3 separate regions of the Homo sapiens genome follow, and regions 2 and 3 are each linked to region 1. The links come from fine-mapping of genetic effects on gene expression. A gene starts in region 1. Each other region holds a variant in brackets. All regions are shown on one strand. Distances are from middle to middle. Region 1 holds the start of PIWIL2 (piwi like RNA-mediated gene silencing 2). Region 2 holds the start of LINC03093 (long intergenic non-protein coding RNA 3093). Region 3 overlaps RHOBTB2 (Rho related BTB domain containing 2).

The links. PIP is the estimated chance that this variant, and not a neighbour inherited with it, causes the effect.
Region 2: its variant is fine-mapped to the expression of PIWIL2 in tibial artery (GTEx, PIP 0.96).
Region 3: its variant is fine-mapped to the expression of PIWIL2 in cerebral cortex (GTEx, PIP above 0.99).

The regions. Positions count from the first base shown.
Region 1 is chr8:22,271,542-22,278,836 of GRCh38, forward strand. PIWIL2 (piwi like RNA-mediated gene silencing 2) reads left to right here and starts at 3,775. Exons shown (of 23, transcript NM_018068.5): 1 at 3,775-3,857. PIWIL2-DT (PIWIL2 divergent transcript) reads right to left here and starts at 3,621. Exons shown (of 2, transcript NR_134293.1): 1 at 3,438-3,621. RefSeq lists an enhancer at 4,055-4,700.
Region 2 is chr8:21,293,999-21,301,293 of GRCh38, forward strand. It overlaps LINC03093 (long intergenic non-protein coding RNA 3093), which reads left to right and starts at 4,241. Exons shown (of 3, transcript NR_104677.1): 1 at 4,241-4,409. The variant T/C (reference allele first, on the strand shown) is at 3,790.
Region 3 is chr8:23,009,569-23,016,863 of GRCh38, forward strand. RHOBTB2 (Rho related BTB domain containing 2) reads left to right here. Exons shown (of 10, transcript NM_015178.3): 7 at 970-1,120; 8 at 5,122-5,210; 9 at 6,070-6,175. Among named protein-coding and RNA genes, the nearest start is that of RHOBTB2-AS1, 13 kb to the left of the region's middle. RefSeq lists enhancers at 4,759-5,523, 5,025-5,074. The variant G/C (reference allele first, on the strand shown) is at 3,154.

The DNA of each region.
Region 1 (7,295 bases):
TGATTCTATGATCAAGGTGCTGGCAAATTTGATTTCTGGTGAGTACCATCTCCCTAGTTTATAGATGGCCGCCATCTTGCTGTGTCCTCACATGGCCTTGTCTCTGTGCTTCCATGAAGAGAGAGGGATAGAGATAGAGAAAGATCTCATGTCTTTCTCTTCTGATAAGGACACAAATCCTATCAGATTAGAGCTCCTCCTTACCTCATTTATGTTAATTATCTCCCTACATACTTTATCTCCAAATACAGGGGATTAGGGCTTCAACATAGGTTTTGCAAGGAGGACACAATTCACTCCCTAACATTCCTCCCTCTGTCCCCCGCAAATTCATGTTCTTCTCACATGCAACACATTCGCCCCATCCTAACAGCCCCCAAAGTCTTACACCGTTTCAGTATCAATTGCAAGTCTAAGATCTCATCTAAATACAATAGGCCCTCCCTATCCACGGGTTCTGCATCCATGGATTAAACCAACCACAAATCAAAAATATTTGGAAAAAACAAAAAGGATGGCTGCATCAGTACTGAACAGGTGCAGACTTTTTTCTTGTAATTATTCCCTAAACAATACAGTGTAACAACTATTTATGTAGCATTTACACTGTATTTGGTATTATAATTCATCTAGAGACAATTTAAAGTATACAGGGAAATGTGCATAGGTTATATGCAAATATAAAATACACCATTTTATATAAGAGACTTGAGCATCTGTGAATTTTGGTATCCATGGAGGGAGGTCCTAAAAACCAATACTCTGCAGATACTGAAGGACAAATTCCATTAAATTTTACGGCTCCAGTCAGGGGTGGTGGCTCACACCCATAAGCCACTGAGTTCAAGACCAGCCTGGGCAATATGGTGAAACCCTGTCTCTACTAAAGGGCTTATTAGTTCCAACAAGAGCTGGTTGTTAAAAAGAACCTAGCGCTTCCCTCCCCTCTCTTGCTTCCTCTCTCTCCATGTAATCTCTGCACAGGCCGGGTCTCTTTGCCTTCTGCCATGAGTGGAAGCACCCTGAGGTCCTCACCAGGTGTCCAGTCTTGAACCTTCCAGCCAGCATAACCATGAGCTCGATAAACCTCTTTTCTTTATAAATTACCCAGCCTCAGGTATTCCTTTATAGTAACACTAAAGGGACTAATGGACTGACACAGGTCCACTCACATCTTTTGGCCCCCCCCCCTTTTTTTTTGAGAGAGAGTTTTGCACTTGTTGCCCAGGCTGGAGTGCAGTGGCGTGATCTCAGCTCACTGTAACCTCCGCCTCCCGGGTTCAAGTGATTCTCCTGCCTCAGCCTCACGAGTAGCTGGGATTACAGGCACCACACCAACATGCCTGGCTAATTTTTATGTTTTTAGTAGAGACAGCATTTCACCATGTTGGCCAGGCTGGTCTCGAACTCCTGACCTCAGGCCATCTGCCCACATTGGCCTCCTAAAGTGCTGGGATTACAGATGTGAGCCACCATACCTTTTGCCCATTTTTTTATTAGATTGTGTGTCCTCCTGTTATTCGGCCTGATGTGTTTCGTGAGCTCATATTTATTCATACCTTTTACGTGGGAGTTTTGGGAGCCTGGTGTATTTCTCCTGAAAGGATTTCTAGTTATCTCTGCCAGGAACCCAGACATACTACATAGGTCTACTTTAAATGAAATCCTTCCTATAGGTTTTAGGCCCCACCAGTAATGTAATTTTCTGCCCTTAATCTTGCTGTGGCTCTGGGGATCTTATTTTCTGAACAGCAGCAACAACAACAACAACAAACCAGAATACATGGTTGGAATAGAAATATTTATGGTGACCAAGTGCCCAGGGTATTTGGAGTCATGACTGCCTAGGAAAATTCAGGTTATGTATAGTTATGGGGCCATTTTCACTCTGAATTTTAGAGACTGGCAGGGCCAGGTGGACAGAATTTGGTGTTACGACTTTTTTGAGTTAAAAAAAAAATCTGTGATTTATCTCAAAATACTATCTCTTAGTGTGATATACGTGCTCTTTTTGCCCCTTTCATTTTTAATTAACAAATAGCAATTACATATGGTTATGTGGTACAGTATGATATTCTGATATTTATTTACATTGTGGAATGATTAAACCAAATTAACATATCCATCACCTCACATACTCATCTTTTTGTGATGAGATTATGTGTGTCCTTTTTAATCAATATCCTAGGGATGGCTAATTAACAATTAAAGTACTCTGTTAGGGAATATAATCTCCAAAAGAGGTTGATTAGCTTTTGAAAGGTCCTAAATAGATGTCCACGTTTCAGAAAGCTTCAACCATTTTTATGTCCAATCAACAGCAGGACTATATGGATTTTCCTTTGGTTAAATAAGTAGTGTTAATGATGTCTGGATTAGCTAGAAATACTGTACGAAGGCCACCTACACTTGCATGGATGGACAGGATATAGAAATCTAGGAAACCCAATGTGCATACCCTTTGTAATGGTGCTCTTGGTTTAGGTTCCCAAATAGAAGACATACTCAGGAAATTATCTGAGGATTATTATTCCCTTACTTCAACTAGAAGATTTGCTGAATCCTGCCCCCAAAATATTGTTTCATGTGTATAGAATAAGTGTGTCATGCAAAGTTTGGTCGGAGTTCCTAAAAGAACAAGGAGTTGGATCTTCACGAAAGTTACAAAACAGTTTGTATAACTGTTTTTGACTGCACTTGCTACCATTAAGTATTTGCACAGGCAGGAGAATTGCTTACAACATAACATTGCAACAGCTGCAAGTTAAGAAGGTTGTGTGGTAAAGGAAGTGAAAATGTTAGATCATGGTAAACAAATACTATCTAGGAACAGTGAAGGGGCATCGTGCCAACTGGATTCCTGAGTTGAAAATCATCCTGCTCCAATAATTTTCAGACTATCCTCATTCGGGAAGGATAGGGAGGGCCCTTGTATGTGTGGATTAAAATAAGTCATGGGATATCTGAGGCCTGGAAAAAATAAGGTTAACCCTTCTCTAGTCCTATTCCATGCAGAGCCCTTGGATGTCTCTATAGCATCCGCCAAAGCCTTCAGAAGCTTTACCTCAACCACACTGTAAAACCTGGGTGTGGGAGAGGGATGCAGTTATTTGACAAAATGGTTGGGAGAGGGTCAGAAATCTTTCTTTGGGTAAAATCATTCTGTAGTTGCTGAAGTAACCACTGATAATTTAATCTGCTTCCTAGAAAGCTCTTCTTGGCTCACAGATTTAGGCATCAATAAAAATAGGCAACATTTATCGAGGGTCGTCTTCTCCTTGTGCTAAGTATTTTACATACGTTATGTCATTATGTGTGTACATTTCCATTCAACCCTATGAATGGATGTTTTTAGTTTTTATCTCTGTTTTATGTATAACGAAAGTGATGTGCAGAAATCATATGAATTAGGTGTTTGAATGCGCACTCGAGCTTACCGTTTCTTTTTCACCACCTGTATCGCTAATCCTCTTAACTGGCAGGAATGGGGCAAGTCAATTTCAACACGCGAGTCTTAGGCTAAATCTGTTTATAGGAGTTGCCCCCAGAAAGGGAGTCAGGATCTCCAAACCCTAACACATTTTAACGCTGAGGTTCACATAACTCCCAGCGCTCCTTCCGCACGAACCGCCCCTGCACAGGGAACCTGCTGGAAAGGACGAGCCTCTCTTGCAGATGGGCCAATTAGATAGCTTGCTCTTGTGAACGACAGGTCTTGTGGCCAATGGGCTCATCCCCGGAGGCCTCGAAGAGCGGAAATTGGCCCTGGAGCATGTGGGCCCCGGGGCGTGGGTTGAGCTCGGTCTTCCCCTGAGGCCGCGCGGAGCTGGGCGACTGGGGCGAGGACTCGCGCACAGGTGAGTACTGGCCCCGGTTGCGGCATGCCAGGCAGGCCAGGGTCGCTCGGGGGCGGGCAGGTTGGGTTTTTGCTCAAGCACGTGGGGTGAGCCGCCCTCCCGGGCCTCTCCCCTCCCACTTCGGGGAGCTGCTGAGGGTTGCGGGTCGGGCGGGGGCGGGAAGTCGTTATTCGAGGCCCGGCGCCGCGGCCCCAAGAAGGTGTCCAGGTTGGGGCGGCAGGGGAGGCCCTCCGGAGGCCCAAGTGGACGTCTTATTTGGCCTGAGAGAGGAGATAGAACCCCTGGCAGGGCTGTGGCTTTGGGGAAAGGTGCTTTTCTCGGGGTGGAAAGGGGATGGGACTCGCCTTCGGGGGCCTTGCTTCTGGTTAGGCCCGAGTCGCGAGGCCTCAGCGCGGAGCACGCACCCAGGGATGCGAGGGAGGCAGGCCCAGCCCGTCCTGGGTTCGCTCCCCATTGAACCTTTCGGACAGCCAAGTATCTGCTACCTGATCCCAGGGGGAAACCCACACTGGGAGAGGGCCCTCTGGGGGAGCTACCTGAATCTATAGAAGTGGTGCTGGAGGTTGAGGGAAGCGTGGACAAAGAGGAAGATTCCAGATGTCCCTTAAGGGAGGCCGTCCAGCGCTTCTGAGTATGTAGCTGTTAGCATACTGATTGCTTGGGATTCTTTGGGTGGTGTTGGGGAGGTGTGAGCAGAGTCCTGGCTCACCGAAAAGGGGTGTTAGCAGTTAAATATAGCCTTCAAGAAAGGGAGTCATATCCTGCGTTTAGAGTGTGAAAGAGGATAGTTTAGTTCAATAAATTTTGCAAGTTCCTGAACTGTCTGCACTTACGCTGTGGGTTTATGAATTGTGTGTTAATATTTTCTTTAAATGTATGATTTCTCTGTAGCTAATACTTAAGACAGCTTTTTTGTTTGTTTGTTTGTTTGTTTTGAGACGGAGTCTCGCTCCGTAGCGCAGGCTGGAGTGCAGTGGCGTGATCTCTGCTCACTGCAACCTCCGCCTCCCAGGTTCAAGCGATTCTCCTGCCTCTGCCTCCCGAGTAGCTGGGATTACAGGCGCAGGCCACCATGCCCAGCTAATTTTTGTATTTTTAGTAGAGATGAGGGTTCACCATTTTGGTCAGGCTGGTCTCGAACCCCTGACCTTGTGATCTGCCCACCTTGGCCTTCCAGAGTGCTGGGATTACAGGCGCGAGCCACCACCCCCGGCCAAGACAGCTTTTTGAAAGTTAAGAAGAGGCTTCTCCCAGCATTTGGGGAGTCTGAGGTGAGAGGATCACTTGAGGTCAGCAGTTTGAGACCAGCCTGGGCAACATGGCAAGATCCCGTCTCTACAAATTTTTTTTAAAAATTAGCTGGGTATGGTGGCAGGTGCCTGAAGTCCTAGCTACTTGGGAGGCTGAGACAAGAGGACTGCTTGAGCACAGGAGGTTGAGACTGCAGTGAGCTAAGATGCCACCACTTCACTGTAGCCTGGATGACAGAACAAGACCCTGTCTCTTAAAAAAAAAAAATTCTTTTCCGTTAAGAAATATTTTTCAGGAATCAGGGGCAAGTCAGGACAATGAGAGGAGCCCCTTAAAGAGGGAGTCTTGAAATCTGTAGGTTATAAAGTGATATATATATATATATTTTTTTTTTTGAGACAGAATCTTGTGCTGTCACCCAGGCTGGAGTGCCACGATCTTGACTCACTGCAACCTCCGCCTCCTGGGTTCAAGCAATTCTTGTGCCTCAGACTCCTGAGGAGGGGGGATTACAGGCATGCACCACCATGCCTGGCTAATTTTTGTATTTTTAGTAAAGACAGGGTTTCATCATGTTTGCCACGCTGCTCTTGAGCTCCTGATCTCAAGTGATCCACCCGCCTCGGCCTCCCAAAGTGCTGTGATTACAGGCATGGGCCACCATGCCCGACCTACAGGTTATGAAGTGATTTTGAAGAGACCTGATGGGCTTTAGATTTGGTAGGGAAGCCAGGGAGAGCCTCACCCCGGGTAACCTGGGAGAGAGAAGGGTGTTAAATGCAACCTGTGAGACTGAGCAAGTATTGTAGGCTCAAAGCAGAAAGACTGTGTACTCTGGAGACTTCTGATGGAGTTTGAAAGAAGAGAGTTTTTAAAATTTTTTTTTCTATTTTTTAATTATTTGTAGAGACAGGGTCTCGTTGTGTTCCTAAGACTGGCCTCAAACTCCTGGCCTCAATGGTCCTCCCACCTGGGCCTCCCAGAGTGCTGGGATTACAGGCATGAACCACTGTGTGTGTGTGCTCAGCCTGAAGGAAGAATTTTGTAAAAAAGAATTGGATAGAGATTCGGAGAAGCAGCTAAACAGATCAAGGAAGAGAATTTGGTGCAATCATAGACTGGAAAAAAGTTAGGACTCTTATGTAGGAAAGAGAGGCCAAAAACAAAGCAAAAACCCATAAATATTTGTTGACAATAATTTTATGATATGGCTGTGTTAACTATGAAATTGTTTATAGGCCAGGCACAGTGGCTCACACCTGTAATCCCAGCACTTTGGGAGGCCCAGGTGGGCTGATCGCCTGAGGTCGGGAGTTCGAGACCAGCCTGACCAACATAGAGAAACCCCGTCTCTATTAAAAATACAAAATTAGCCGAGCATGGTGCTGCATGCCTGTAATCCCAGCTACTCGGGACGCTGAGGCAGGAGAATCACTTGAACCCAGGAGGCAGAGGTTGCGGTGAGCCAAGATTGCACCATTGCACTCCAGCCTTGGCAATAAGAGTGAAACTCCGTCTAAAAAAAAAAGGGGGGGAGGAAAAGAAATTGTTTATAAACCAAAGTCATCCTCATACATAAAAACTGCCTTAGCCAGGTGCAGTGGCTCACACCTATTATCCCAGCATTTTGGGATGCTGAGGCAGCAGATCTCTTGAGCCCAGGTGTTTGAGACCAGCCTTGGCAACGTGGCAAGACCCCGTCTGTACAAAAAATGTACAAATTAGCTGGGTGTTGTGGTGCATGCCTGTAGTCCCAGCTACTCAGGAGACTGAGATGTGAGGGTCACTTGAGCCCAGGAGGTCAAGGCTGCAGTGAGCCATGATCATGCCACTGCACTCCAGCCTGGGCGACAGAAGGAGACCCTCCTAAAAAACTGCTTCCTTATACAACAGCTAGTTAACTCACAGGACTGAGTTTTGTGAGAGGCTATTTGGGTAGAAAATATAAGTAAGTTCAAGGAGGACACGGGCCTCTAAGGCAGGGGTTCCCAACCCCCAGGCCACAGGCTGGTTGGGGGGCCTGTTAGGAACTGGGCTGCACAGCAGGAGGTGAGAGATTGGCAAATGAGCAAAGCTTCATCTGTATTGACAGCTGCTCCCCATGGCTTGTAGTATCACCTGAGCTCTGCCTCCTGTCGGATCACTGGTGGCATTAGATTCTCATTGTGCAAACCCTCTTGTGAACTT
Region 2 (7,295 bases), 980 kb before region 1:
AAACACACGCAAAGCATTCAGAACAGTATCTAACACTGAGGGAGCAACAACAAATGTTATGACTGTTATCTAAATAACAGTAATACAGAATCATGAGCCCTTCCAGTTTAAATGAACCTTAGACAACAGCATTTTTCAACAGAACATGATAACACTAAGGCTTTCTATGATCATTTAACACACCCTCATATTGCCTGTTATTAAAACACTTAAAGTATAATAAATATATATATATATAGAAGAAGAATATGCAATCGAAAAAATAAAACACAATCCACATGTAGAGGTGACTACATTACAGCCATGTGGCCTAAACAGATTCTGACGATAGGCACGGATAATAAAGAGTGGCATGGCTTTTCAATCTTTTGTTGGTAGTTTTTTTTGTTTGTTTTTTTTTTTTTGAGATGGAGTCTTGCTCTGTCTCCCAGGCTGGAGTGCGGTGGTGCGATCTTGACTCATTGCAACCTCCATCTCCTGGGTTCAAGCAATTCTCCCACCTCAACCTCCTGAGTAGCTGGGATTACAATTATATGCCACCATGCCCAGCTAATTTTTGAATTTTTAGTAGAGACGGATATTTTGCCATGTTGGCCACAATGGTCTCGAACTCCTGACCTCAAGTCATCTGCCTGCCTCAGCCTCCCAAAGTGCTGAGATTACTGGCGTGAGCAACTTGTCCCCAGCAAGTACTTTTTTGTTTTTGACTATAAAATACAGCTTTGTCTAAGTTGTAACTGATTTTTAAAACATATACACTAAACCTAGTGCTTAACAAATGAAGAGATAAGTATAATTTGATGTTCTTTTCACTGATTTCTGTTATTATCACAGCATAATCTAACTATCATTTCATCACTGGGCTTCAAATTAGTTATAAACATATTCCTCTTGACAACATGGAAGACGCAATGTAGGCACTGAAAATGCATACATTTGTTGCCCTGAACGATTGTAAAAGGCAACACTAGAAGCCTGCAGAGGGTCTGAAAGGAGAGGCTAAGGAAAGAGGGAGGCACATACAGGCCAGAATAGAATAAATATTTAAGAAACTTGCAAACTACATGTGTGTGTGTTGGGGAGGGCTGATCAATAAAGATTTTATAGAAAAGCTACCATTTGGGGCGAGCCTTACCGGACCCTTGGGACGCCAACAGGCGGAGATGAAGAAGTGTGTTCCAGGTGGGGATAGCCGCTGCCCCAGTGCCTGGGGGCATCCAGGTTCCTCCTGCTGGGCTCTGCACAGCTTCCTGCTGCCGCCCTCCTCTGCCCTGGCCCAAGGTGGGGAGGGGCGGCAATTAAAGGCTGCGACCTGGGTGCTCCCCTGGCCCCTCTCTGCTGTCTTCGTGTTGCCCCCCATTCCCTGGCCTGGTGTTCACCTGCCCTCTCTCACTCTCCTTTTTTTCACCTTCTCACTCCCCTACTCATCATTTTTCTCCTTCTCCCTCCCCCCACTCTTCCTCCTTCTCTTCCCCGTTTCTTTCCTTCTTTCCCTCTCCTCTCTCCTGTGTCTCTTTCCTTCCTCACTTTTTCTCTCTCCCTCCCCTCTCCCCCCGGCTCTTTCTCTCCTCTTTCCCCTATCCCTTCTCTTTCCCTTTTTCTCCCGGTTTTTCCCCCTTCTTTCTTTCCTTTCCCTCTCCTCCTCCCTCTCCTAATCCCCTTTCTCTCATCTCTCCTCTGGGTCTCTCCCCAGTCTATCTCCTTCTCTCCCTTTCTCCCTGCTCTCTATTTCCCTCTCTCTCTACCCGCTTTCTTTCCCCCGCTCCTCTCTCCCTCTCTCCTTTGTATCTCTCCCCGCTCCTTTCTCTCCTTCTCTCTCCTCTAATTTCTCCTTTCTCTCCCCTCTTTCTTTCCCTGTCTGTATCTCCCCCCTTTTTCTCTCCTCTCCCTTTTTCCCTCCACTTTATTTCCCTTTCTCTTCCCCCCTTCTTTCCCCCTCTCTCCCTCCCTCTCCCTTCTCTCTGTCTCCCTCTCCCTCTTCCCCTCTTTCCCTCTCCCCCCAGCTCTCACTCTCCCTCTCCCCCCAGCTCTCACTCTCCCTCTCCCTCCCTCCCTCATCTCACCCAGCCTGGATTCTTCATGACCGATTTTTTTAATTATTTGGGAAAAAATGTTTCCTCTTTATGAACAAGAGAGAAAAGCATTTCTCCTCCCCAACAGATTAACTATTTGAAATGCACATAAACTGTAAGTTTCTCTCAGCAGAGAAACTGGTCCCTAGAAACTGATATTTTCCCCCTAAATTTTCTTACGGCACCAGAACTTTGTCTATACTTATTTACCATAAAAACAACATTGTGCACTCTAAAAGTCAAGACAGGATAAACACCAAAACTCTCACCTGTAATATCACCTTAAACCTAACGTACTCTTCCCAGCCTAACAAAATCATTAGCAATTCTTGGATTCCCTCCAAGTCTTCACTCATGCACTGACTTCACGTAGCTGTAATTGTTAGCAAAACTGATTTCACGAAGAGCATCTATTCCTACAAACTCAGGTTTCAAGCATTTTAAGATGAACTCAGTATAACAAGATGAACCCAAGTGACACCAATTTTGAGATTTTTTTTTTTTGAAACCTGGAAATTCAAACTGCAGTGGGCTGACTTGGAGCTGCTTCACCTGGACAGGGTGTTGTGCCCCTATTTAGGCTAGAAAACCCTACCTTTGGGTAATTTGATGATTGGTTGTATTGGAGCTCAGAGCTTGCAGGTGGGAGTAAGCTTCTCTTGAAACAAGGGAAAGGTCAATCCTGGGACTGGGAGGGGTTGAAAGGCCAGTCTTGGTCAGCTGTGAGCAAAAGAACTTCCTCCTCTCTCTAGGCTGAGGGGTAGAAATTGGGCCAGTATCTCCACACCCCGACAACTTCCAAATGCCGCTCTGGCCACAGGGAGGCAGGAAGTATCCCTGGTGTGGGACAGTCCTGGGAGGGTCCCAGGATGGCTCTGGGCCTATTTTGTGCTTACAAATTATTCTCCATACTCTTCTTCCTTCCATTATCCGTAGACTTCCCCCTCAAACCCCGAAACGGAGTCTCACTCTGTTGCCCAGGCTGGAGTGCAGTGCCGTGGTCTCGACTCACTGCAACCTCCGCCTCCCAGGTTCAAGCGATTCTTGTGCAATAGCCTCTGAGTAGCTGGAATTACAGGAGTGCACAACCACTCCCGGCTATTGTTTGTATTTTTAATAGAGGCAGGGTTTCACCACGTTGGCCAGGCTTGTCTCAATCTCCCAACCTCAGGTGATCTGCCCAACTCCTCGGCCTCGCAAAGTGCTGAGACTGTAGGCGTGAGCCACCGCGCTGGGCCTATCCTCAGGCTTTTACTAAAGACACTTAAAGGTTACAGCCTGGTCTTTCTTATTTGAGTTAGTTTCCAATGACTGCTGAACAGATTCACAAACTTGTCTTAACACAACAGAAATTTGTTATCTCGCAGTGCTGGAGGCCAAAAGCTAAAATCAAGATGTCGGCAGGACTGTGCTTATTACAACGGCTTGGGGAGAATCCTTCTTTCTGTCTCCCGCTTTAGGCCCCTGTGTTCTTGGCTTGTGGCAGCATCACTCTACGCTGTCTGTCTCCACGTGGCCTTGCCTCCGTGCCTGTTTTCCCTCTTCTTCTCCTATGTGAACACCGTCACTGGAATTAGAGTGCACCCTGGTAATCTAGGATGATCTCATCTTGAGATGCTTAATTTCATTACTTTGCAAGGATCCTATTTCCAAAGGTCACACTCACAGATTCCAGTCGGACATGATTTTTTTTGAGGCAGGTCCATTCAACGTGCTA[T/C]CATTGTGGTGTGGGAAATTCAAGACAGAAACTGCACCACCTTGGAGACAAACTGGACTAGTGGAGAGCAGTGTTCCTTCCCCTACAGCCAGAGCTGGGGGAACAACTCGGCACAGTGGAGGTCTCACAAGGCACCAGGAGTAAAGCAATAGGCAAGGCTATGACAGCACACCCGAATCCCAGGACCCGGGGATAAGTCGTATCTTAGGAATATCTGCCCATGAAGGCAGTGGGCCGCAGGATCCCACTTTGAGGTGCCAGTGCTGATTGTCATTCCTTCCAAGATGGTAAACCATTAGGACATCTGGATCCCTCCCTAAGATCAACCCTGGAGGAGCTGCAGAGGAGAAACAGGGCACAAGAGGACCAGAGAGGGCTGTGGGGAGCGGGGAAGAAGAAAACGAACCGTTAAAGTTCTGTTGCTCCCTCTCCCCCAGCATCCTCCTGGGACATACAGCGATGGCCCCCACACCTGGAAGGACTCAAGCTCTGAATCCAGCACCTTCAGGAAGCAAGTGATGGCATCCCAGAGGCCCTATGCTTGAGACAGACTGACGAAAACAGGTGGATCTAGGTAAAATCAGTCTCTGCTACCCTCCTCATCTAAACCCTCAGTGCAGGTGAGTCAGGATGCAAATGTAAGGAGGGTTCCCTCCTGATACTGCTTCTCCCCAGCGTAAGGACAGAAGAAGGTGACAGGGTGACTTGAGGAGTTATTTAGGGGCCGGGGTGGAGGTGTCACTCCAGCTCTCTGGTGCTGGACAGTCCTCCCCAGGCATATCTTCTCCATTACATCCACACTAAGCTCACAGGGACTCACAGTTACAGGGTCTATTTCCCTGAATACTCATTTCCTTACAAAATACCCAGTATCTCTGTTGGTGAGGGAAAGGCATGTATGTCAAAATAAAAAGACATTGTAAGGCCCAATCATTTCAAAACAAAAACATGTTAGGTTATTGTGTGCACTGGAAGTAAAATAATTAGAAGCAAAATAATTAGAAAGCCAATCATTTTAAATTAGCCAAAAAAACTTAAAAGGAGGTTGCAAAGAATAATTTTCAAACAGTTAAAGATATGACTCTCATACAAATCATAGTGAAATGTATTTTAACTCAGATTTAACTCCAAAAGAATGCTAAAGTTGGTTCAAATGAGAATTTGAAAGATGGGGTATATATGTATAGTCAATGGAAGACAGATTACTAGAATATGATTGCTAAATCAGACACCAAATCAGTTAATGTCTTACAGAGCAAAAGAAAACAAAAATAAAACCTTTAAGGTATTCTTTTCTACTAGACAGAAATTAGTTTTTATGTATCAATTATTGACAGATTAACCTGTAGCTTCACACAATATGAGCCCTAAGCAGTTATAAGGAATAAGTCAAAAGCAATTATCCTAAGAGTTAGATAATCTTTGAACGGAACTAAACAATGCTCCAGTATGACACTAAAAGGACTTGCGCTTTTCCTTTGCCTTAGTTCCAAGTTTCAGACAATTTTTCTTAAGAGAGATAAAAGAGGCCAGGCCCAGTGGCTCACGCCTGTAATCCCAGCACTTCAGGCAACTGAGGTGGGCAGATCACTTGAGGCCAGGAGTTTGAGACCACCCTGGCTAACATGGTGAAATCCTGTCTCTACTAAAAGTACAAAAAATGAGCCTGGTGTGTTGGTGTGTGCCTGCAATCCCAGCTACTCGAGAGGCTTAGGCAGGAGAATCATGTGAACCTGGGAGGTGGATGTTGCAGTGAGCCGAGATTGCACCACTGCACTCCAGCCCAGGCCACAGTGCAAGACTCGGTCCCACAAAAGAAAAAAAGAGAGAGAGATAAAAGAAGATAGGAGATAGCAGACTGAATGAATGAAGAATGAAAAGGCAAACTAATAGAAAATATAAAAGAAGTTAAGAGAAATGGAGAATAGAAGTTAAAGTGCTGAAATTTCAATTAAAAAGAAGTACCAGAAAGAGAGAGAAACAAATAGAAAAGAGAAAATATTTGAATATTTGAATAGTGAGCTATATTTTCTAAAATTGTCTTTTAAATAAAGATCTCAGATAAAAAAAAATCCATAAAGGAAGAGATAAGGAAAAGCCCACATTCAGACATACTATTAAAAAGTTTAAGGATATATCCCTAATTATATATGTGGAAATTATAAAAATTTACAAAGGAAAAGAGCATATAGCATTCAAAAAACAAAAATCTAAAAACAAGAAACAGATTTTATAAAAAGCAACACTGAATCCAAGATGATAATAGAGTAATAATTTCGAAGTATTCAGAAAAATAACCATAACATTTAGAATATTATATTTGGCCAGAGTCCTTTGAATATGATGGCATGACAAATAATATTCTAGGCAGGCAAAGGCTCAGATAAATGACTGTAGAAAGACCCACACTGAAAACAGTTCTGAACAAACTTCCTAAATAAAGGAGAGAAAATTCCAGATGTTGCAAAAGAGGAGTGAAGTAAGGTGATGAAATCTTTTGTAAGCAGAAAATACAGGACAGATTGAAATATCAAAATTTTATAAATAGGCCCAAATATGTAAATAATTAAAATGTATTTTAGACAATTATTAAACAAAAATTGGCAGGTTGAATTTTTTCAATACTGGCATCTGTTGTCTAAAACAGAAATTCTAAAGAAAAAAATGGTTGAAAAAGAATGGAAAAATGTATCAGGAAAAATCTAAAGAAAGATTATATAGATATTTTAATATGATTTAAACAAGATTACTAGAAAAAAGTTATTAGTGATGAGAGCTATTTCATAGTGATTAAAAGTTTTGATACACCAAAACCATTTAGCAATTCTTAAAACTTTATTGCTTTAATATTCTCAAAGTATACAAAGAAAAAGTGATAAAACTGCTAAAAAGTTTTTGATTAAATCACCATTATGGTAGGAAATTTCAACATACCTCTCTACTTGATAGGTGAAATAACGGAAGATTATCCAGAATAAAGATAATATGTACAACACAAAGAACTTGACTTAATGGACATATGTAGTGTCTTCAACAACTTTATAATGTACATTTTCAAGCTTATATAAAATATTTATAAAATTATGAGTAATAGAGTAATAATTTCAAAGTATTCAGAAAAATAACCATAAAATTTTGAGTATTATATTTAGCCAAAGAGTCTTTTGAATATGAGGGCATGACACTCCCTAATTATATATGTGGAAATTATAAAAATTTACAAACGAAATTTGTAAATTTCCTAGGCACACATGAAAACCCTCAACAAATTTCAAACTGTATCATACAGACCTGGGTTTCTGATCGTAGCTTATTTATGTTAAATATAAACAAAAAAAATAAATTTCCCGAAATTTGAAAATTCAGAAATGCATTGTGCTTAGTTAATAAGTTAAAGAAGAAATTGTAGTAAAAATTATGTCTTATGTAAGTTTTTATATTTTTATCTTTTAATTGTAAATTGACAAATTATAGTTGTGTGTATCTATGGGGTACAAAATGATGTT
Region 3 (7,295 bases), 740 kb after region 1:
GTCTTTTTCCTTCTGCCAAAAACCCTCTCAGCGCCAGTCTCTTGGGAAATGCTCACCAAATGCTTGAATGAAAAACAGAACCAAGCACGAGGCTGGGCTGCATCGCATCCCGTGATGTGGAATGTGCATTTTCTAAGATTTCTGGGAAGGAAGTACTTAAGGAAGGCTAAGTGGAAGCGTTGGGAGTTGGTCTCTGAAGTGGGAGTAGGATTTGGATATACAAAATGTGAGACTAGGAGCTCTCACAAGCCCCAGGGGCCTGCCAGCCCCGGGCACTTCTCGGTACTGTAGACGCCAGCTTTAAACTTCTAGCCAGTTCCCAGCACAGCCTGGAGAGCCTGATGAGAAGGCAGTTTGTGTTGCAGCGCTGCTCTCAAGAGATCCTGGAGGCCCAAAGCAGCAGCTCTGAGCAGACAGAAAGAAATCAGCTGCTGTGGGCCTTACTTATTCTGTATCCCACTTCTGTTCTGTGCAGGGATGGGAGGGACTGAGGTGTAGATTGAGGTGACCAGAAGGCCTCCTTCAAGCATCCCGCGAGCAAGAGCGGCTTCCAAAGGGTGCCAGTGAGTAGTATCTGGGTCCCTTTGGAAGAGTTTAGAAGCTGGACGCCATGGCTTGTGCCTATAGTCCCAGCTACTGAGGAGGCTGAGGCAGGAGGAATGCTTAAGACCAGGAGTTCAAGACCATCCTGGATGGCATAACAAGACGCTGTTTCTAAAAATAAACACATAAATGATAGTAGAGGCCTGTACTCTGGTGCTGTCAGCAAACTGGGGCTCAGCACAGGTTGTCGCTCTAGGGGTCAGGTGTTCTCAGGGTCTTCTCAGCAGATACACATGCAGCACAGGGAAGGCTGCCCGTCTGGGGGAGCCTGGGTGTGAGGGCCAGAGCTCTTCAATTTCTCAGGGTTCAGTTCATCTTCTCCTAAGCAGGATCTCATTGCTGTCCGCTCACTCCTTCCCTCCCCAGGTGGTGTTTCCCTACACAAGCAAGAGCTGCATGCGGGCCGTGCTGGAATACCTCTACACCGGCATGTTCACCTCCAGCCCCGACCTGGATGACATGAAGCTCATCATTCTAGCCAACCGCCTCTGCCTGCCACACCTGGTTGCCCTCACAGGTAACTAAGCAGTGCACTCGGGGACCTCCCCGCGGCAGAGGCCAGGGAAACCCCAAGGTGCAATGTTCTCCTCTCACGTCTCTCCTGGGGGACAAGCTGATGTCCAAGGGACTAAGCGTACATGAAATGGAATCTGTTGACGGGCACAGAGTTCTGGATGAGGACACAGAGTGAAGAAGGGTGGTGCGGGGCATGTTTGATGGGGTCACCTGAGAGGCTCTCTCCAAAGGCGATTTAAACCCAACAAAATGGAACATGAGGCTGGGCACAGAGGCTCACACCTATAATCCCAGCACTTTGGGAGGCCAAGGCGGGAGGATCACTTGAGGCCAGGAGTTTAAGACCAGCCTAGCCAACATGGTCTTACCCGTCATGGCAAACTGCCATGAAACCCGTCTCTACTAAAAATATAAAAATTAGCTGTGTTTGGTGGCAGGCGCCTGTAATCCCAGCTACTCGGGAGGCTGAGGCAAGAGAATTGCTTGAACCCGGGAGGTGGAGTTTGCAGTGAGCTGAGTTTGCACCACTGCACTCCAGCCTGGGTGACAGAGTGAAACTGTGTCTCAAAAACAAACAAACAAAAAATGGAACATGACAGTGCTTTATGTTCTTTGCTTGGCTTCACTTGGACAAGCTTAAGAAGTCAAAAAATAATAGAACACAATTCCCACATTTCTACCCTGTGGTTCTCCTCCTTCTTCCTTTCCTTTTATTTTTCTTCTTTTGCCTTTTTTCTTCTTCCCCTACCTTTGACATCACCTTCTCATCCTCTTTCCAGAAACAGCACACAAACATCCCTGCCACTCCTTAGTCCCTGCACGGATTGTACGAGCCGGAGCTCAGCTTTTAGTGTGGACAAATCCCAGGGGCTCTCTGAGTTGGAACAAGAACTGAGTCATGGGGGAGAGCCAGCGGCAGGCAGTCTGGGTCCAAGGGGCCAGGGAAGAGAAGTGGTGCTCGTGGGGTGAAGGGAGCCTGGGGCCAGAGACCCAGGCAGGCAGACGGCTCTCGTTCATGTTGGAGTTGGCACTTGAGTTGCTAGTGGTGGCGGCAGGGGTACCAGCGCTGGTGTTGATGCCGAGGTTAATATTCTTGCATAGGTCGGGGACAGAGAGCACATCCTCACATACTGAGTTGAGATTCAGGGAAGAACCCAGTGTCAGAGCTGCTGGGGTCCAGGCAGATGATCAAGATCGGGGCTCAGATATGAGGGAAAACAGCAATCCGTGAGGAAAAATGAATGATAAGGTGGGGCTGGGTTACAGAAAGAAGGCAGAAATCATTGATCAGAACCAGAATATTAAGAGCGGAGGCTGCAGTGGGAGTCCAGGGTCCCCAGAAGGGGATAAAGGGAACTTTGGGGCAGGTAGCAAGAGAGGCATCTAAAGATCCCAGCTACAACAGTATATCTTGTTTTGCTGTCCATAAAAAAATGGTGTGATCTTCCCAGAGCACATAAAACTTCAAATTCCTAGATGGAATAATTCCACTTTTAAAAGACTATCTCCAGAGAAATGACCCAAAGGGGAAAAATGCATAAAGGTATTTCTAGAAGTTCATTTCGTCATGGCAGGCAATTGAAAGCAAGTCACAGAAAAACCGTTGGTGAAGCACACACAGGCAGTTTTCACATGGTAGTCATTAAAAATGTTAAACTAGACTGCTGCATGGAAAGGCTTATTGAAAATAATGTTAAGTAACTTTTCATGAAATTATCGATACACACTAGGGAACATCCACAAAAATGTTTATATCTGCCTTGTTAAGGATCAGGGGAAGATGCCAAGTTTTATATAATTGGCGATGGTTTAAGTTTTGTGACATATGCTTCCTATGAGGCCATTAATTCAAGTTGAAAACTTTTATTGCTCAGTAGAACACAAATACATAAAAGCATATTAAACATATGTTCAGGTTACTGAATTACTATTGTTATTATGTTTTTTTAGAGACAGGATCTTGCTCTGTCACGCAGACTGGAGTGCAATGGCCTGATCATAGTTCACTGCAGCCTCAAATTCCTGGGCTCAAGC[G/C]ATCCTCCCAACTCAGCTTCCCAAGTACCTTGGACTATGGGCCTGCCTCATCACACCCAGCTAATTTTTAAATTTATTTTTATTTATTTATTTATTTATTGACATAGAGTCTCACTTGGTCTCTCAGGCTGGAGTGCAGTGGTGCAATCCTGGCTCACTGCACCCTCTGCCTCCTGGGTTCAAGCGATTCTCCTGCCTGAGCCTCCTGAGTAGCTGGGACTACAGGCATACACCACCACACCCAGCTAATTTTTGTAATTTGAGATGGGGTTTTGCCATGTTGGCCAGGCTGGTCTTGAACTCCTGACCTCAAGTGATCCACCCACCTTGGCCTCCCAAAGTGCTGGGATTACAGGCGTGAGCCACCACACCCGGCCTAATTTTTAAATTTTTTGCAGAGATGAGGTCTCACTGTGTTGCCTGGACTGGTCTTAAACTCCAGCCTCAAGTGATCCTCCCATCTCGGCTTCCCAAAGTGCTGTGATTACAGGCGTGGGCCACCAAGCCTGGCCTAGTTTAATGAATTATTATAAAGAAAATGCCTTTCTACTCATGACCTATGTCAGGAACTAGAACCTTGCTGGCCACCAGAAGTCCTCCACCTCTCCCTCCTCTCTCACAGACCCCTCTCTCCTCCCTAAGAGGAAGCCCTTTGCCTAGTATTCCTTTTTTTATGGCACTTTTTATGGGCATACTGCCTTACTTTCCTTTATAGTTTTATCATCCAAGTGTGTGTCATTAAACACTACAGCATGGTTTTTTGCATTATTTTTTACTTTTATTTTTTATTTTTGGAGATGGAGTCTTACTGTCACCTGGGCTGGAGTATAGTGATGTGATCTCGGCTCACTGAAACTTTCACCTCCCAGGTTCAGGAGATTCTCATGCCTCAGTCGCCCGAGTAGCTGGGATTACAGGCACGTACCAACACACCCGGCTAATTTTTGTATTTTTAGTAGAGACAGGGTTTCACCATGTTGGCCAGGCTGGTCTTGAACTCCTGGCCTCAAGTGATCCACCCGCCTTGGCCTCCCAAAGTGCTGGGAGTATAGGCGTGAGCCACCGTGCCCGGCCAGTTGTTTGTTTTTGAAGTATTATTATGGCCCCTTAGATTTGAACATTCTTGATTGGTTTCAGTTAATTGCAGTTATCCTTGCTGAAGCTCAAATCCTGCACTCTTTGGCTTGACTCCAGAGTCTTACGAGCTTCCTCTCTATCTGGAATGATGAGATGTTCTAGGTTCCTCTTGAAGGTTCTGTGCCCCAGACCTGGAATCAGCCATTTCTCCAGGAAGTCCTAGTTTCTTGTGTTGGAAGTGGAACTGGTATTTGTGTGCACTAGGAATGCTCATTGTACTGGGATGACTGTTGTTTCTAGGTCTTTTCTGGGGGCAGAGCTGGGAAATATATTGATCTTTTTAAAGATAAGATACCTCATGAGTTTATACTGATACTTCTAATTAAAATTCAGAACCAAGGGTGTTTACTTCTTCAATATAAGTGTTTTAACTTAAAATACAAGGTTAGTACACAATTTTTTACAAAATTTAAATTAAAACAAACAACTAGACTTAACTCCTAGTTCTAACTCACAGTTCTCAGCCTTTTTCTGTGATCAGCAGACATGAGGTTTCACACACTCTCCCTTTTGTATCAGAGGCTGGTTCTGTTGGGAACTTTGACCCTACCTGTATCAGATTATGTCACGGGACATACGTAGTTTGAAAAATCCTCTTAGGTAATTCCAATGTCCTCCTTCTCTTCCTACCCTACCCCGTTGAGCTCTTGCTGTCATCCCTGGGGTCCCCCTGGTGGCAGCAGACGTCATAGCCTGGGGCCTTTCCTGGCCTGTCCGGACCTGCCCGGGCCCTGGTTTTCCTCACCCTGAAGTGAGCTGGGGGATGTGGTGGGGCAGGGTGAGCACAGGTCATGTGCTTCTTCAGCTGATTGGTGGCCGTGTGTGTTACAGAGCAGTACACAGTGACCGGGCTGATGGAAGCGACCCAGATGATGGTGGACATCGATGGGGACGTCCTTGTGTTCCTGGAACTGGCTCAGGTATCATGGCAGGGGAGGGAATCTACAACAGTCTCAGTTCTACACTCTGCCTGCCCATTGGCTGCGAATGGGAAGGGGTGGAAGATGGTCTATGCGGGAGAACCTGTCATCGGACTGGGCTCTTTGACTGCGCGTAGCCCATCTCCTCCTCCATGCCAGGAAGCAGCTGGGGAACTCCCTGGTGTACCCGGAGGGGAGCTGACCAAGTGGGGAAGGGATGAGGCTTTAGGCAGCAGTAGGGCTGGGGAGGGAACCCCAGGCTCAGGCTTACACATGGTTGCTGCCTGCCTGAGGTCATTTAAGGGGCACTGAGGACTTTCCATCTGAAATTAACCGCCTACTCCCTTAATCCCAAACAAACAAGCCAAATCTCCCACAGTGGCCTTCACAGTGCCAGAAATTCAGCCACCAAAGATTAGTGTGTGGAGTGGAAGCACGGCTCAGGCAGGGCTTGCAGACACCCCTGGGAAGGCAGCTCCCTTAGCTCATTGTCAGTGCCTCCGTGCAGGCTGCCTTGATCCCAGATGTGGAGGAGAGAGAAGTCAGGTAGGTTGAGATCTGAGGAGGGCAGATGCAGTATGAAGCCACTACATAGGGCTCTGGTGTCTGCAGCGAGGATGCCAGGAGTGGGCAGAACAGAGGTGAGATGATGGTGGTGCTGGCGGTGGTGCCAAGGAGCCTGAGGCAGCATCATCATCCTCAGTTTTGTGTGGCCTTGCCTCTGGCGCAGGCTCTCTAGAACTGCAGGGCCTCTGCGTGCCCTGCACCAGAGCTTCAGCTCTGAAGGCAGCTGGAGGTGTCTATGCAGACCCTCTCCCCTGGGGATTTCAGTACAGACGTTCTTCCCTTCTGTCCCCAGTTCCACTGTGCGTACCAGCTGGCCGACTGGTGTCTCCACCACATCTGCACCAACTACAACAACGTGTGCCGCAAGTTCCCCCGAGACATGAAGGCCATGTCCCCAGGTGAGCATCGGGGCCAGTCCTGGCAGTACCTGCTGCCCTCCCCTTAGGGGTGCACAGCTCCCATGTAATCCCAGGGACCCCGAGGCTGCCAGTAATCCTTGACCTTGGGGCTGGGAGCAGCCTGCAAAGGAGCCTCCAGCCAAGCCAAGGGGCCCCAGGAAAAGTGCTGGCCTGGAGGGCAACTCACCCTGCCTCTCTGGGCTTCTCATTCTCAGAGGTATGAAGAGGATACTGGACTAAAGTTGGTAGATTTCAGACTTTTCTGGACAGAATACCGTAAGAAATACATTTCATCTTGTGACCCAGGACACATATAGGAAAATATATACATCTTTCTAATGCTGCTCATGGCCCACTAAATTGATGGTACAACCCAGGAATGGGTACAGGCCACAGCTTGGACCACCCAGGTCTGGGCATCCTCTGAGGCCTCCTGTCTCTTCTTGATTAATTTCTTAGGCCCTAGAACTCAACAGAAACTGCACAGGCTCCAGGGAGAGGTGTCCCTGGCCTCCCTGAAGGGTCTGCCACTCTTTCCATGGGGTCCTCTCTGGGCTCCCTCCAGTCTGCCGTGACCCTCCTCCCTGCTGCCGTGTTTTTGCCTCATGCTGCCAAGTCTCCACCCCGATCTCTCCTTTTCACTACTACAACACTTTTAAAAAAAAATTATTTATTTATTTATTTTTTTGAGACAGTCTTGCTCTGTTGCCCAGGCTGGAGTACAGTGGCACAATCTCGGCTCACTGCAACCTCCACCTCCTGGGTTCAAGTGATTCTCATGCCTCAGCCTCCCGGGTAGCTGGGATTACAGGTACCCACCACCATGCCTGGCTAATTTTTTGTATTTTAGTAGAGACGGGGTTTCACCACGTTGCCCAGGCTGGTCTCAAACTCCTGACCTCAGGCAATTTGCCTGCCTCGGCCTCCCAAAGTGCTAGGATTATAGGCATGAGCCACTGCACCCAGGCTAGCATTTTCTTTCTAAAGCACAGGTCCAATAGCATCACTCCCTGCTTCCAGACCTTCCACTGAAACAGTAGTCTTCCATGGCCCCCCATACCCTGCAGAATAAGGCCAGCCGTTCCTCTGGTCTGCTGCTGTGTCCTGCTGTGTCCTGACT